2 separate regions of the Homo sapiens genome follow, and region 2 is linked to region 1. The links come from fine-mapping of genetic effects on gene expression. Tissue or cell type: whole blood. Region 1 holds a variant in brackets; the other region holds the start of a gene. All regions are shown on one strand. Distances are between the middles of the regions.

Region 1 (8,104 bases):
AAGGCAGATGTGGCATTTGGGATTCATGGGGCTTGTTCCCACTGCAGAGTAAAGAAGAGAAACACCTTCCTCTTGTCCATGCGGTTCATGGACCCCGAGATGGAAACCCGCTACTCGGTGGAGAAGGAGAAGCAGAGTGGGGCTGCCTTCAGCTGCTCCTGCGTCGTCCTGCTCTGCACGGCCCTGGTCGAGATACTCATCGACCCCTGGTGAGGGAGGGGCCGGGGAGGGCCACGAGTTTCCTCGGCTGCGGTGGTGCCGGGCGGGGGGCGGGGGCAGGTGTCTCAGCGGGAGCCTGACATTGGGGAGCAAGCCAGTCTCTGCTCCCTGACCCCCACTGGGACGGCCCCCACAGGCCCCAGGAGTGCTAGACGGCACCCTGGGCATCCTTCCTTTTCCCTGCCCCGCGTTTTGGAGCAGTCCTAGCGTCAGAATGGGGATCTGGCCAGGATCAAGAGAGCTGAGGGACAGAGGCCTCCAGAAGGCTGGAGACCTTGGCTAGATGGGCCCACACTGATTCTTGGGACAAAGATGGGGACACTGCGTCAGTCTCAGTCACCAAGGCTGACCTGGCCCCTCTCTTGGCTCATCTTGGTAAAGATAGATTTTAGGCTGTGGGCACAGACTGACGCCCTCTCTAACGCAGCAGTAGGTCCTCCAGGGCAAGGTGTGGCCTCCTGGAGTCCCCAGCTGGTGAAGCCCTGTCTGAGGGTGACGACCACTCTCTTGTTCTCCCTTTCTCCCCTCGGCCAATCGGGGATTCCCCGTCACAGAGGAGGGGTCTGGAACCCTGCTGGGATTACAGTTTGTCAGGAGCCTTGGGCTGGGTCACACTATCTAAGGTTGCGGGTGTGTGACCACGTGCAGGCCACTGCAGGCTCCGGCAGCATCTGTTTCCTCATCTGTGAAATGAGGAGAACAACCCCTGCCCTAGCGGACACTCACGACTGTGGTGAGGCTCAAATTCACTCATTCCATAAGTATTGATTGGTTGTCTGCTTCATGCGTGGGGATCAAGGGCTGGGGCTATGGCAGCGATGCGGCACACAGAAACCCCTGCTCTCGTGAAACTTGGGTTCTGGTAGGGGAAGCTACAGGCAAAAGCAATTAAACAATTAAAATATGCATCCATGCGAGAGTAAGTACTGCAGACACAGGGAAGGCAAGGAAGGGAGGCGGGTATGCTGCTGGGGAGCTTTGTTTTGTTTTGTTTGCATTTTGATGTGGGATGGTCAGAGCAGGACTTGCTGGCAGGATAATATTTCAGTAACGCCTGGAAGCGGGTGAGGGGCGAGCCTTCTCCTATCTGGGGGACACCTGCTTCGGATAGAGGTGCTGAGGCTGGAGTGGCCTGGCCCCTGGAGGCACAGTGAGGAGGCATCGCATTGGGAACGGGCCACAGGAAGAGTAGCAGGAGTCCAGCACAGACGTGGGGCCTCCTACACGCCACTGCAGGGTGCCAGCTTCCACTCTTAACACAGGAGGCCGCCAGAACAAGGGAGCAGAGGAGTCCCCTGTTGTGACATATGCCTGGAGAGGCTCACTCCTGCTGAGAACAGCGCTTAGTGAGCACAGCGGGAGCAGTGAGACCAAATAGCGGCCCAGACAAGCCACTGTGGTGGCCAGGCCAGGCCGAGGATAGAGGAGGATCAGTGGTTGGATTCCGTCGATAGATGCTGAATGTATTTTGGAGACAGAGCTGACAGGATTTGCTGGCAGATTGGTTGTGGGGCGTGAGTGTGGAGTTGAGGATGTCTCCTGGGCTTCTGATCTGAGCAACTGGCAGGACGGGGGTGCCGTTAACCAAGATGGGGACAAGGTGGAAAGATGAGAGTGGAGAGGCAAAGATCAGGAGTTTGCTTTGGGACACGTGAAGTTTGCAGTGCCCACAAGCCAAGGAGGCCAGCATCCATGATCTGGAGTTTGGAGGGCGGGTGGGGTTGGAGACGTGAACCTGGCATCACCAGCATGCAGGCTGTGCTGCAACACGAGACTTGCTGAGCTCAAGGCAGCGTGTCCAGATGCAGAGACAGAAAAGGACTCAAGAAACCAAGCGAGAAAAGTGTCTCAAGGAGGGGTGAGAGGTGACTGAAAATGGGACATGGATTTAGCTACCAGGAGGCTTCTGGGGCTCTTGGCAAGGACACCTTCCAGGGAGGGGTTAAACGGGAATGGGTGTGAGCAGAGGGTATAGAGAACAGGTTTCCGGGAGTTGTCAGGTTAAGGTGGATGTGTTGAGTGTGTCCACTGTGAAGCTGGGGGTGGCTGTCACAGGCAGACTCTTAGCCCCCGGCAGCGAGGGAGTGATGCTGCTCCGTGCTCTGTCCTTTCAGCACAGCGACATGGCAGGGGTGCATTCCTAAGATCCCTGCCCAAGTTTATCCTGGGCTGTGCCCAGGCCACCTGTGAGTTGTTCCCTCTCTGGGAAATGTCCCAGGCAGCAGCTGCAGCTGGAGAGTGGCCCGCTCCCAGGCCGGCACTCAGCTGGCGGCCCGTCTCATCAGGGCCTTTGTCCTGTTCTGCACGGCAGGCAGCAGCAATTCCCTGGCACCGCGTGGAGCTGTACAGGCTCGTGCTGTGCTGAGAGGCCTCCCCGTCCCCTGCCCCCGGCCCCTGTCCCCTGCCCCCTGCCCCCTTCCCCCGGTCCTTGTCTGCTGGCCCCTGCCCCCGGTCCCTGTCTGCTGGCCCCTGCCCCCGGCCCCTGCCCCCAGTCCCTGTCCGCTGCCCCCTGGCCCCTGCCCCTGTCTGCTGTCCCCTGGCCACTGTCCGCTGTCCCCTGGCCCCTGTCCGCTGTCCCCTGCCCCCTGGCCCCTGTCCACTGTCCCCTGCCCCCTGTCCGCTGTCCCCTGGCCCCTGCCCCCATCCCCGTCCCTTCCTCTCCTAGCCCCTCACCCCATCTCACTGTCCCCTCTGGCCTCTCCCAATTGTCTTCTCTCTGTCACAGGCTAATGACAAACTATGTGACCTTCATGGTGGGGGAGATTCTGCTCCTCATCCTGACCATCTGCTCCCTGGCTGCCATCTTTCCCCGGGTAAGAGGCACTTTTCTACTGAGCTCAGAAGCCTCTGGAAGTGAGTGGCACTCCCTGTAAAACTGGGCAGTGATGGAGTTATTCTTTCTGTCAAATCTGACAGGCAGACACTCCTCTGTTAGGACGGTCCAGGCACTTGCCCATCCATTCATTCACCATCAGCAGAGCACTCCCTCTGGCTGGGCCACCAGGCTGTGGCAGGCTGTGGTGGGCCACGGCTGGGCCGTGGTGGGCCTTGTTGGGCCGTGGCGCTGCAGCACGTATGAGTACGGCAGAGTCTGGGTAAACAAGAACCTGGGTAGAGAGGAAGTGGAGGGCCGGCTGGAAGGTGGGTTGGCCCCGATGGTGAAGGCCCTTAGAAGCCAGACTAAAGGGATTAAAACTTTCTCCTGTAAGGCACTGAGGTACCAAGCAGAGTTTTTTTTTTTTTTAATCAGAATGACAAAGGTAAAGCAGTGTTTAGGAACATAAATCTGACAGGTGGCTCGCCAGGTCACTTGGAGCCAGGATAGGCAGGAGTAGCTGGCCAGAGACGAGCAGCCCTGAAAACTGTTCCTGCCCTGGCCTCACCTCGTCACCACGTCTGCTGTGGAAAGGGCTGCGACCTGGAGGCTGTGCTGTTGAACAGGCACATCGAGGAGGTCCAACACAGCGTCAGAACTCCCACGCCCTCTTCTCAGCTCTGCCCCTTGGTCAGCTGTC[A/G]GGTGACTCCCAGGCAGAGTCCGTTTTGAGGCTCCTGGGACTGGAATACGGGACCAGCCTGAGTTGCTGTCAGTCACGTCGCAGGAGAAAGGACTGGCAAAGGCTCATGGCCCTTGAAATTCTGTTCCTTCTAGGCCTTTCCTAAGAAGCTTGTGGCCTTCTCAACTTGGATTGACCGGACCCGCTGGGCCAGGAACACCTGGGCCATGCTCGCCATCTTCATCCTGGTGATGGCAAATGTCGTGGACATGGTGAGCTCCTGCTGTCCTTGTTGAAGGGACGCCCCTGTTCTCAGTGGAGAAGGGCTTCTGTTTGGGTCACACAAGCAGTTTCTCAGTCCATCCCTCCACCGTCATGTAGCTTTGGAGTGGCTCTTAGGTTCCCAAACACATCATCCCCACCTAGTGGAAGGAGTCTTGTCCCTGTCATCCAGGGAGCCTCTGGGATGGACTTGTTTCCTTGAAGCTCCTCTCCCAGAGTCCGAGAGCACAGTTCCATGTGCCCAGGCCTGTGCTAGGTACCTTATGTATGTTGATTCATTTAATCTGTGAAAAAGTCCTGAGCAGTTGTACCAGTATCTGCAGTTTCATAGGGAGAAACTAACTCTCAAAAAGGGTAATTGGTTGGGCGCGGTAGCTCACGCCTGTAATCCCAGCACTTTGGGAGGCCAAGGTGGGCGGATCACGAGGTCAGGAGTTCGAAACCAGCCTGGCCAACATGGTGAAACCCCATCTGTACTAAAAATACAAAAATTAGCCAGGCATGGTGGTGCACACCTGTAATCCCAGCTACTTGGGAGGCTGAAGCAGGAGAATCGCTTGAACCCAGGAGGCGGAGGTTGCAGTGAGCCGAGATTGAGCCGCTGCACTCCAGCCTAGGCGACAGCAAGACTCCGTCTCAAAAAAAAAAAAAAAAGGTAATTCACTTGCTCTAGGTCACACAGCCAGGAAGTGACAGAGTCCAGAATGGAGGCAGTTCTAAGTCCCAGTCCTGTGTATTCTTCCTCCCTGAGGGGGCAGCCAAATGCTTTCTTGGGGAAAAGGGACAGGAGTTGGGAGCCCAGATCTATTGGTTTAGAACCACTGGGCACGTATTGAGCACTACATGCCTGGAGCTGTCATCAGTGTTCTCTTGTCAGTTGTCACGGCCTCCTCTAATTGTGGTAGTACCATATACACTATCTTCCTTTTTTTTCAAATATAATGTTATTGTTGTACTTTAACAATTGGAGCACACGGTGCCGGGCGCAGTGGCTCACGCCTGTAATCCCAGCACTTTGGGAGGCCAAGGCGGGCGGATCACGAGGTCAGGAGATCGAAATCATCCTGGCTAACACAGTTGAAACCCCGTCTCTACTAAAAATACAAAAAAATTAGCCGGGCGTGGTGGCAGGCGCCTGTAGTCCCAGCTACTCAGGAGGCTGAGGCAGGAGAATGGCGTGAACCCGGGAGGTGGAGCTTGCAGTGAGCCGAGATTGTGCACTGCACTCCAGCCTGGCAACAGAGTGAGACTTTGTCTCAAAAAAAAAAAAAAAAAAAAAAAAAAAATTGGAGCACACAAATACAACCAACATGGAGACTTATTCTGCCAGTGGTATAAGTGAAAAAGCTCCAGGGCTGCAGCTAATCAGAAGTCCAGTGGGGGGCCGGGCGCGGTGGCTCACACTTGTAATTCCAGCACTTTGGGAGGCTGAGGCAGGCAGATCACTTGAGGTCAGGAGTTTGAGACCAGCCTGGCCAAGATGGTGAAACCCCGTCTCTACTAAAAATACAAAAATTAGCCAGCCACAATGGCACGAGCCTGTAATTCCAGCTACTTGGGCAGCTGAGGCAGGAGAATCGCTTGAACCTGGGAGGTGGAGGTTGCAGTGAGCCAAGAATGCACCACTGCACGCCAGTCTGGGCGACAGAGCGAGACTCCATCTCAAAAAAAAAAAAGAAAAAAAAGAATAAGTCTACTGGGAATGAGGAGTTAGGGGCTCCAGAGCCTACCTTGGCCAGGGGTTGCTGGTGCCCACTACCCAGGGAAGAGAAGCCCCAGGCCCCCTGCATGTCACAACATGCCTGGAACCTGGCACCCAGGTGTGGAGGTCACCACTGCATGGGGTCCTGGACACTGTACAGGACACCTGGAGATGCTGTCACTCATGGAGGGGTAAAAAGCTAGGGAGGTGTAACAACTGCTCATGCTAGAATGACATGGCGGGAATCGCGCAAGCAAGACAAGGTTGCCCTGTGGGTGAAAGTTACAAAAAGGGGGGGTTGATTCCGGTTCTGGATGCGCTTTCTCCCGGCCGCATCTGCCCAGTAGCAGAACCAGTAAAGAATCCAGAAGGCAGTGAACATCCCCCCAATGGAAGGATTTGGGCAGAGACTAGCTGTCATCACGGGGAGGCTGTGAGTGGGGCTCATGGTCCCGTGGCCCCTCCTGAAGCAACAGTGTGATATGGGGAAGAACATGTTGGATTTGAAGCCTAAAGACTTGGCTCCTACTTTTGGCTTTTCTGCTTGCTAATTGTGTTTGGGCAAATCTGGCCCGAGTTTTCTGTACAATAGGGACAGTACTAAAAATACTCGAGAGAGTTTTTGTGAATGTCAAATGAGGCAACGGCGAGGCTCTTAGCTGCAGTTACTAACTTTCATATGATTAGTCCCTGGTAAATTTCCCCATCTTTCCCGGTATTTCTGGGGGAGCCGCGGGAGGTGGCAGCTGAGCGTGCACTACCATGCACAGCCCTCTGTGACCAGCACCTGCTGTTCTCTTGAACGTGTGTCCCTGCCCGCCGTCCTGGCCTCCAGCTCAGCTGTCTCCAGTACTACACGGGACCCAGCAATGCAACGGCAGGGATGGAAACGGAGGGCAGCTGCCTGGAGAACCCCAAGTATTACAACTATGTGGCCGTGCTGTCCCTCATCGCCACCATCATGCTGGTGCAGGTCAGCCACATGGTGAAGCTCACGCTCATGCTGCTCGTCGCAGGCGCCGTGGCCACCATCAACCTCTATGCCTGGCGTCCCGTCTTTGATGAATACGACCACAAGCGTTTTCGGGAGCACGAGTAAGATGAAGCGTGACTGGGGATCTGTATTGTCTCCTTCCTCCCGCCCGCAAAGTCCTCAGTTCAAGCTCATGGGCCTGTGCTGAGGTGGCTTTCTGCCACTAGGGGTCCTCAAAGGCTTGTTCAAGAACCAGTTCCTGGCTGCTCACAGACGTATCACTGTTTGGCTAGGACCTGAGAATAGATTCTTCCCATTCTCCCCGAGTGGAGGACTTGGGATACCCCGGTGCCTGGCTGGGCATCAGGCTCTTGTTCCCAGATGGGGCCTGACTGTGCTGTTATCTGTCCAACAGCTTACCTATGGTGGCCTTAGAGCAGATGCAAGGATTCAACCCTGGGCTCAATGGCACTGACAGGTAAGGGCCACGGCTTCCCCTCCTGGCCTGCACTCACAGCCCTTCTTCTAGAGACAGGAATATAACAGGCCCAAGCCCCGGGATCTCACCCTCCCGGGAGGCACGTGACCTGATACGTGCAGGTTAGAGAAGCTGGCATGGGTTCCTCCAGGAGGGCTGCAGCAGTGCAGTGAGGAGGGAAGGAAATACCAGGTGGATGGCAGCTGCATGTAACTGGCTGGCAGGACAGACAGGCAGCAGGAAAATGAGGAGGGAGGAAGACGCTTTGGATTTGGACCTGGCTTCTGAGCCTGCAGCAGGCAGTAATTCTCTGTGGGTCACAGGCAGGTCCGTTTCCATGAGTTGCAATTTCATCTCTTGAGGAGGATACTGAACCAGAAGTTCTCTAAGGTCCCTGCCAGTGCCAAGGTTTTAAAATTTTATGATTCCATGACTTGAACAGACCTTCAAGGAAGTTTAGAAATAAAAAGATGACCTAATAGAAGAGGGGTAAAACCTGCATAGCCCTTAGCAAAAGAAGAACTCTAAATGGCCACTAATAAATGGCACTCAAGTAATCAAGGAAATGCCAGTTACACCCTAGTGAGATACCATCACACACGTACCGGTCCAGATAACTCTGACAATATCAAGTACAATAGTAACTCTTACACTCCTGGTGGGAGTATGAGTTAGTACAACCGTGTTAGAAAATATTTTGATCTATTTAGTAAGGTTGAAAATAAACCTGTGTCCCAGCAATTCCACTCCTACATACACACCCACGCAGACGTGTGTATATGTGTATATATATATATACACACATCTTAGAGAAATTCATGCACATACTCATGTCCCAGGATATATGTATGAGAATGTCCAAAGTGGCACTGTTCGTAATAGACATACCCCCTCCCCCAAAACAAATGAAAACAACCCAAATGACATCAACAGGAAATGGATACATAACTGGTATA
Region 2 (8,104 bases), 340 kb after region 1:
GGTATCAGCGTTTTATAATAATTTCCCTTATTCAGCCATGTATCCTGCAGAAATATATAATAATCATTTCTATACATTAATCCAAATACTATAGCCCACAAACCATTTTCCAGAACTAAGCTATTAAAAAAAAAAAACAAAAAAAAAACACCTTCATCTCCTTATGAAATGAAGCAACCAACATTGGTACCTAGTTGCCACTAGGCCATTTTATGACCTCTGACACCAAATGTTGAAAGGCACAAGGTCTAACTAAAATATAAAGAGAAAAGGAAAGGTTTTAAATGACTAGACCTCATCTTCAATGTTAAGAATAGAACATGAGGCCTATCCTTAGTTGCCAATCACCAACGGCTAAACTACTGCTAATCTGGGAAAGAAGCAATTTTAAAAAGTCCTTTCCTACAGTCTAGTCTTCCCAAATGGGTAGGAAAGTTAATCTAAGATAGGGAGAAATTTATACGGTTCTGCAGCCCAGATCAGATACAGTGTTCTGACATCCACCTCCTGAAACACATGGATTTCACCCGAGCCCACACCGACCACAGCATCCAATATTTGCAAGTAATGCAAAATGGAACCCTCCAAAACATTTTTGGACCTCTGCCAGGAAAGCAGCTGATGGTCCTCTGAGAATTTCTGTTATAATCATATTTAAAAGGCAAAAACCAATGCCAAAACAATCATGAGCGTCCCGGGGATCTCCTATGCTCCATGACTTAGATTTTACTCCGTGTTGTGCGTTGTATTGACCTCCCACACCTGCCCTATAATGAAAACTATGTTAAGCCACATGGCTTAAGGCCAGCCAACTCCATAAGATATGCAACATAACATTCAAACAATGTGGAGTCCTTGGGAGACGCAGCAAAAAAGACAAACTAAAGTACGGAACAGAGGTAGTATCTAAGAGGAGGTATATGAAATTGATGACAACCAAGCAGGGAGAACTAAAACATCCTTGAAAAACAATTATAAATCACAGTCTAGTATACAGATTCCCTATACAGAATTGGGGAAAAGAATTTCAAGAAAATGCCCAATACCCTCTCTCCACCACTCCACCTTTCAGCACCTCTATACCACCCTCATCACTTACTCAACATTTAGTCCTAGTGAAGACCGCTCACTGGATTAGCAGGATCAAGAAGACATGCACAGAACATTCCATTCTGAGAACAACATCTTTAAATTATTTAGGCTTGTTTACCACCCTTCCCTATAGAGTAAAAGCATGAAATGTTGCCAGCACTTTCACAATATACACCAGTTAGCACCATAGCAACCCAATCTTCTGCCCACCAAAAGATTAACACATAAGCAGAAAACAGGAAATTCAACAAAAATTAAAGTTTGACCTTAGACTCCCTCAACAGTTAAATGTCTTAAGTAGTAGCAGTGTCTTTACATCACACCCGCTTCATGCTACCCTTACAGCTTCCTGGCATAAGCAAGTTCTTGGGATTATACAAACTGCTGCTTCTGTTTGCAGCCCAGATTTCTAGAAATGAAACCCTGGAATTGAGGGAGAAACAAAAACAAATGTTCGCAGAAAGAGGCAGGAAGAAGCATTGTCTATATAATCCTAGTTTAAGTGAAACAATCACCATTAGCTCCATCAAGCACTTTTTTTTTTTTTCCAATAAAACCACTGCAGATCTAAAATACTCTCTTGGTTTAAACCACACAAAAAGCAATTTAATAGGCACAATCCTACAGGTTTTCTGAGAGAAATAAGGAAGAGATCAAGTGTAAGCTACGTAAAATTCACGTTTTGCACCTTATAAAGCAAACTTCAATGTTGTTAAATAACCAGTAGAAAATATCTACAAAAATCAAACTAAACACCTGTTCTTATAAGCAGCAGTCCTCTATTTTCTCTCTAAACCATATATTCCCAACTCAGACCCTCTCTGTGACCCACTGTTCCCAAAGCATAGAGTCTGAAGAAGAAATATAAAACATTTCGGACATTCGTTCACAAAACCAAATTAGACCTTTCCACAAAGTACAGGAGATAAAACAGAAACACTTCCATTTTATCTAATTTATGGCAAATAGTTCAAGGAATGCCTATTTGTTAAGCTGAATCAAACCCCACTGCTACCTTTAACCCAAAACTATTTCTAGTTGAAGATCCAAGAGACCTAAGCAAATACTTTCTTTTCACATTATTCTCAACATGAAGAAATCCGACCCCCTTCCTACAACATCATAGGAGGCCCCTCTGGCCAACTTTCGTTGTTATTGTTGTTGTTTTGTTTGCTTTTTTTTTGAGACTAGCCTCCAACCAATTCCAGAAGAGGAGACAAACCTCAAACAAATTTAACCCTTGAGATCCATCCCTCAACTGTATCATATAATCTACGCTTCACGGCAGTAATGTTTTAAGCAGACACTTGATTTCTTAATCACTGAAATGTAAGCACCAGCCCTCACAAATCATCGCCACAGAGATTCCTCTTGGCATCCACAGAGGGTGCTGGGACTGCAATTCACTCAAGAACCCTTTACTCACCAACATCACACTCGACATTAAAAACTCACCGTCTCCGAAGAAAAAATGTCACCTTCTGCACAAGGACACCTGCCTGTTCAACACCTCTACAAGAAACGAGGAGGGCCAAGCATGAGAGGCTAACAGATCCTCCAGCTTAAAGTTTTCCTCCCCATGAAACTCTCCGGACACAACACCGTGGCCTGTCCTTGTCACACACACACAGGCTGTATTGTCAACCCCTCCGTCTCCCTCTAACGTCGTCAGACTGGGCAGTGTCTACCCATGGGGGTAACTGCTTTTAAATAAAATAAAAAAGCAGCCACCACAGCTGGGTAGTAAGGACTGGAGACCCTGGGTGTCCGATTTTTTCAGGTCTTTTACAAGGGACTAGAGAGCGGCCCGAATTCTGTCACTGCCCACTAACCAACCCCACCTCCCAATCGCCTCGTCAACATGTTTGCTTCCCTTCCTCGGCCCTTTCGGCTGAATCCCAGGAAGGGGACCAAACCCGGGCCGCGACAGGAACATGTCCAGTATCCATCCCATGTCTACCTCCGAAACCCCTTCTCGGGAGAAGGGGCGAGCAAGCGCGCCGGGGTCAAACCCAAGCGCCGTCGAGGGCTGCGCCGACGGAGAGGGACGCCGCGGTCGCCCCCATTTCGCGGTCCCGGCAGGCGAGATTCCGAGAGGTGAGCGGGCCGGCCAAGGTCACGGCGTCGTCGGGGCCGAGGGGCGCCCGCGCCGACTTCCGGCTCCCCCTCTCGGCGGCGGCCCGGGGCGCCCGCTCCCCACGCCGGGCAGGCGGCCGCGCAGCTCGCACCCCCTCCGCGGATGCTCGCCCTCTCCGCGCTAACTAGGGCAACTGGAAAAGAGGCGGAGAGAAGTCGCTGCTGCAGCGATTTCCCCCGGCGGGGAGCAGCCCCCAGCTGGTGCCCGTGACAGCTGCGACCTCCGCCCCCTCCAGCCGCGCCGGGCCGCGAGGGGAACTCGGGGAAGTGGGAGGAGGATGGAGCGGGAGAAAGGAGAGCAGGGGGCGGAGGGGCGCCAGCTGCTCCCCGCCCCCTAGGGCCTCCGCGGCCGCGCGGCTCGTGACAGCTGCACCCACCGGGAGGCTCCGCACCCGCAGCCCGCCACTCACCTGCCGCCGCCGCCTCTGGGCCCCGCTCACCGGCGCCGCACTCGTCCGCGACCGTGGCGGCGGCGCCGCCCCGGCCTCCGCCGCTCCTCGGGCCCGGCGCCGCGGCTCTCCGGCCCCCTCCTCCGGAGCAGGGGTCCCCCCGCAGGGGGATGCAGAGGGAACCTGACGCAGGCTCCGCTCGAGGGAGCAGCAGCGAACAGGCGGCGGAGGCCCTCAAGGCCGCGAGGCAGCCGTCGGAGGACAGAGCTCAGCAAATCGCGTCAGACTCCCGCTCGCCCGGCCTGAAGAACAGGCATTTCAGCCGCTCTCCGCGGCCGCCATGTTCTCCTCCTCGGCCGCCACCGCCGCCGCCGCCACCGCCCCCCGCTCGCGGCACCGCCCCCTTCGCGCCCCGCCCCGCCCCGCCCGTTCCCGGCCGCCCGCCTGCCCGCCCGCCGCACTTCCCCTGCCGGCTCCGGCCGCCCGGGCCGCCGCGACCCGGTGCCCGCGAGCTCCGACAGTGCGCCCGGGACAGCGCGCCCCCAGCCCGCCGGGCCTGCCGGGCCCGCCGAGCGAGGAACCGCCCCGCGCCCTCTGCCGGCCCGCCCCAGCCGGCGTCCTAACGAAGTGTGGGAAAGGAGGCCCGAACTCTTCCCCGCCCGTCTCAACTCCTCCCCGCCCCTCTCCTGCCCTCCCCTCGGGGCGTTCCTCCCACTGCTGCCGGGAAGCGGCCTCGAACACCAGGGCGCTCGCAGCTAGGCCGCCGGGCCTGCCGCCTCCCGCTGTTCTTTATCTTTCTGGGAAGGTGTCGGAGCGGCGAGAGGCCCTGCGGACGGGGCGGAGTCGGCTCCGGGCCTGTCCCTCCACTCGGGCGTTCTGTTACTTTGAGCGAGACATATCCCGCGGGCCTCGTTTTTTATTCTGTAAAATTGGGAGGTGGTTGCCTAGATGATTTCACAGGCTATTAGACAAGAGAAAAGGAAGATCGTCTGCCCCCTTCGTTTTACAGATGAAAAGATCTGCCTGACCCGTTCTGGCTCTGCAATTCCATGAATTATCTAAAATGTCTGTCATTCACAGATCTTTCCCCTCAAGGGGCCCACACCTTTCTTCTTATCTCCCTTTTCTTTTTTTTTTTTTTTTAACTTCTCTAATAGAAGTGCTACTTCCAAAAGTAGAGTGTTCTTGTCACCAGAGGAATCGAACAGCGGCTGAACAGCCTCTCTGAGCTGCGATGGCCTTATCTGGACCGCATCCCGCATTCCAAAGGCTGGCAATGCAATATATACCTATGTCTCTCCCTGGGTTGTCCTAAGCATGAATGAGTCACTCGCCGTGGAAGTGCCTTGTAAAGCATACATCTGTCCATTCCTTTCTTTTATTCTTACCCCATTTCGCACTCTTACCCTTCCTCAATCCTGTCCTGCTGCTGCTGTCTCCCGGCGTTTCCTGCTGTTTCGCTTCCTGTGTGTTCTCCCCTAAATCAATCTCTGTAAATCCTTAAGCCCTTCCCACCCTTCTCCCAACTGGGGAACCTGACAGCCTTGAAAACACCAATCTCCGTGGCAGCTCTCTGAGTCGACGGGCAGCTTCTTTCACAGGCAGGTACTACTGTATGCTTTCACCATCCTCTTCCTATCCTTGTCACGCTCATAAAGTAATCGCTAGACCACACCCCCACATGCATTCATATATTCATTCATTTATATATTCATTCCCCTGATTCTTATCGGAGACCTACTACTGGGGCCCTAGGTGCATCTCCTGAGCTCTGGCTTAGCAGTACCTCTAGCCACCCGCAGAGTCCCTATCCCCAATAATAGCTGAAAATACCCGGGCACTCATGAGTTTCGTCCCCTAATGTAGGGCCTACTTCCCAATCTAGTCCAATGCAGACTGTGTGAAAGTGCCTTGTTCTAGCCTCTGGTGCCAACAAATGAGCCACTTGTGCAAGGTACTCCTGTCTCCACTAGACTCTAGTAAGTGCTGAAGGCCAAATCTAGTGGCCACTTCAGTCCTACTGTCGTGTGGCCTTTCTACAGCACGTGATACTGCTAACTCCTCCTTTTTGAAACTCTCCTCCCTTGTCTTCAATATGAGTCTCTCTACCTGATTTCTGAACTTGCCTTCGTTTGCACTTTTCTTGGGCTGCTCCTTTTTTACGGGGCCATAAAAAATGTTGGTATCCTCAAGGTTTTATTTTTTTCCTTCCTTTCCTCTGGCTTCGGTTGACTGTTTATTTCCACAGCTTCAACTGTTAACAAAACAACTCCTGAATTTCCTTCTTCCAATCTCCCACTCTGCAGCCCGGGGTCGTAATTAACTTTAAAATATCCTCAAGACACACAGTGCTAAGATTTTGTTGAATGACAAATTATTTAGGTGTTAATTTATATTGCCATAACCATCCATGTATGCTAAAGAGAGAGTTCTTTTCTAGAATGGTACTGTTTCTTTTTTGTTGTTGTTGAAACAGAGTCTCGCTCTTGTCGCCCAGGCTGGAGTGCAGTGGCGCGATCTCAGCTCACTGCAGCCTCTGCCTCCTGGGTTCAAGTGATTCTCCTGCCTCAGCCTCCCGAGTAGCTGGGATTACAGGCACCCGCCACCACGCCCGGCTAATTTTTTGTATTTTTAGTAGAGACAGGGTTTCGCCGTGTTGGCCAGGCTGGTCTTGAACTCCTGACCTCAGGTTATCCACCAGCCTCGGCCTCCCAAAGTGCTGGGATTACAGTCATGAGCCACTGCGCCTGGTAATGTTTCTTAAATAATAACTCTTTGACTTTTTTCTCCTTCCTCTACAAGTCATAATCACTTGTCAAAGCAGTTATAACACCCTTTTATGTCTCCAATTGGTAATCTTTTCTCTGGTCATACTCAACTTCTCTCAGACTCCATCTACTTTTACTAAACAGGCCCATTTTACTAATCCACCCGAGCAACCCTAAATATAGGGCCAAAAGATTCATTAGATTTACTTCGTGACTGTACAAGTAGCCTCTCTAAAATCCATTTACCTTAGCTATTTAAAATTTATTTACTCCCAAAATACAATGCCAATCAACAAGGAAGACTAACTCCAATTAAATGAAAATGCTTTGAAGATATTTATAAATAAAAATGTAAGACAACATTTAACTCTTATAGCCCAGATAGAACTGGTTTTAGTCCAAACCCTATTGTTTCCATAAATTAATATAATCCTTTGGTGGACTAGAAACAGCCTAGTTCTACGGGCAAAATCTAGAACATACCTGTTGGATTTTCTCCAGAGCATAATAGATTTCCAGTTCTATAAAATATATGGCTAGTGTGCATGAAATTACTCCAGTTACTGAGGCAAGAATTGATTTAACTTTGACATTCTTTTTTTCAAATAGTTTTTTGTTTTATAATAATTGATACAGACTCACAAAATATTCAGTCAATAAAGAACAGCACAAAAAGTTTAAAAATAAACTTTTTCAAGCCAGAGAGAAACATAGTAAACATGTTTCCACACCTTTCTCTATATATATTTGCACATATAAATACACTATATGTAGTCAATTTTACATAAAAATAAAATCACGCCTGTAATCCCAGCACTTTGGGAGGCCGAGACAGGCGAATCACCTGAGGTCAGGAGTTCAAGACCAGCCTGGCCAACATTGTGAAACTCTGTCTCTACTCAGTGTGGTGGTGGGTGCCTGTAATCCCAGCTACTCAGGAGGCTGAGGCAGGAGAATCATTTGAACCCAGGAGGCAGAAGCTGCAGTGAGCCAAGATCGCCTCACTGCACTCCAGCCTGGGCAACAGAGTGAGACTCCATCTCAAAAAAATAAAATAAATAAAATAAAATCACATGATAAATGCTCATCAGTAATCTGGTGCCTTTTACTGTACAATGTATTTTCATCCTAATAGTTAAATACTCTTGCATTGTGTATCTGTTTAGCCATTTAATTCCTTACTAAAAATGTTTACATTGTCTGTATTTTTGTTTGTATATTTTTGTAAATCATGCTGTAATTCTAATGCATGCCTCCGTGCAGTTTAGAAATTATTTTCTTTAAATTTCTAGAAGATTAATTGTTGGCTCAAAGGGTACATGTTAATTTTTTTACTACATTATTTACCAAACTGGCCTCCAGAAAATTGTTTCAATCTGTGGTCCTAGCCATAGTGCATGAGCCTGCCACTTGCCCATAACCAGCTCTGTATTTTACCCATTTCACTTTGAATAATCTTTAATTTCTACATCTGCTTAAAGGATAGAGGTTAAGAAGACTAGGTTTAGAGTTAGGGAGACCCAGGTTTGAAATGGGTTTGTCACTTACTAGCTGTATGAAACCTGGGCCAAACCACTTCAACATCTCCAAGACTCAGTGTCCCCATCTGTAAAATAGGATGCTAGCACTTGCCTCAAAGGATTGTTGCTAAGATTAAATGAAATAATGTATGTAAAGCACTCAATACAGTATTTGACATTTAGGATTGCCCATGAGAAA

Evidence for each region. PIP is the estimated chance that this variant, and not a neighbour inherited with it, causes the effect.
Region 2: NCOA1 starts here. The variant in region 1 is fine-mapped to the expression of NCOA1 in whole blood (TOPMed, PIP above 0.99).

Annotation. Positions count from the first base shown.
Region 1 is chr2:24,826,590-24,834,693 of GRCh38, reverse strand. ADCY3 (adenylate cyclase 3) reads left to right here. Exons shown (of 22, transcript NM_004036.5): 11 at 48-209; 12 at 2,945-3,032; 13 at 3,869-3,985; 14 at 6,533-6,792; 15 at 7,086-7,148. LOC105377626 (a long non-coding RNA gene) reads left to right here and starts at 228. Exons shown (of 2, transcript XR_939842.3): 1 at 228-952; 2 at 2,334-2,614. RefSeq lists enhancers at 1-95, 96-1,020 and a silencer at 1,200-1,494. The variant A/G (reference allele first, on the strand shown) is at 3,735.
Region 2 is chr2:24,487,137-24,495,240 of GRCh38, reverse strand. NCOA1 (nuclear receptor coactivator 1) reads right to left here and starts at 3,987. Exons shown (of 23, transcript NM_003743.5): 1 at 3,639-3,987. RefSeq lists silencers at 3,215-3,704, 3,859-4,017, 3,995-4,334.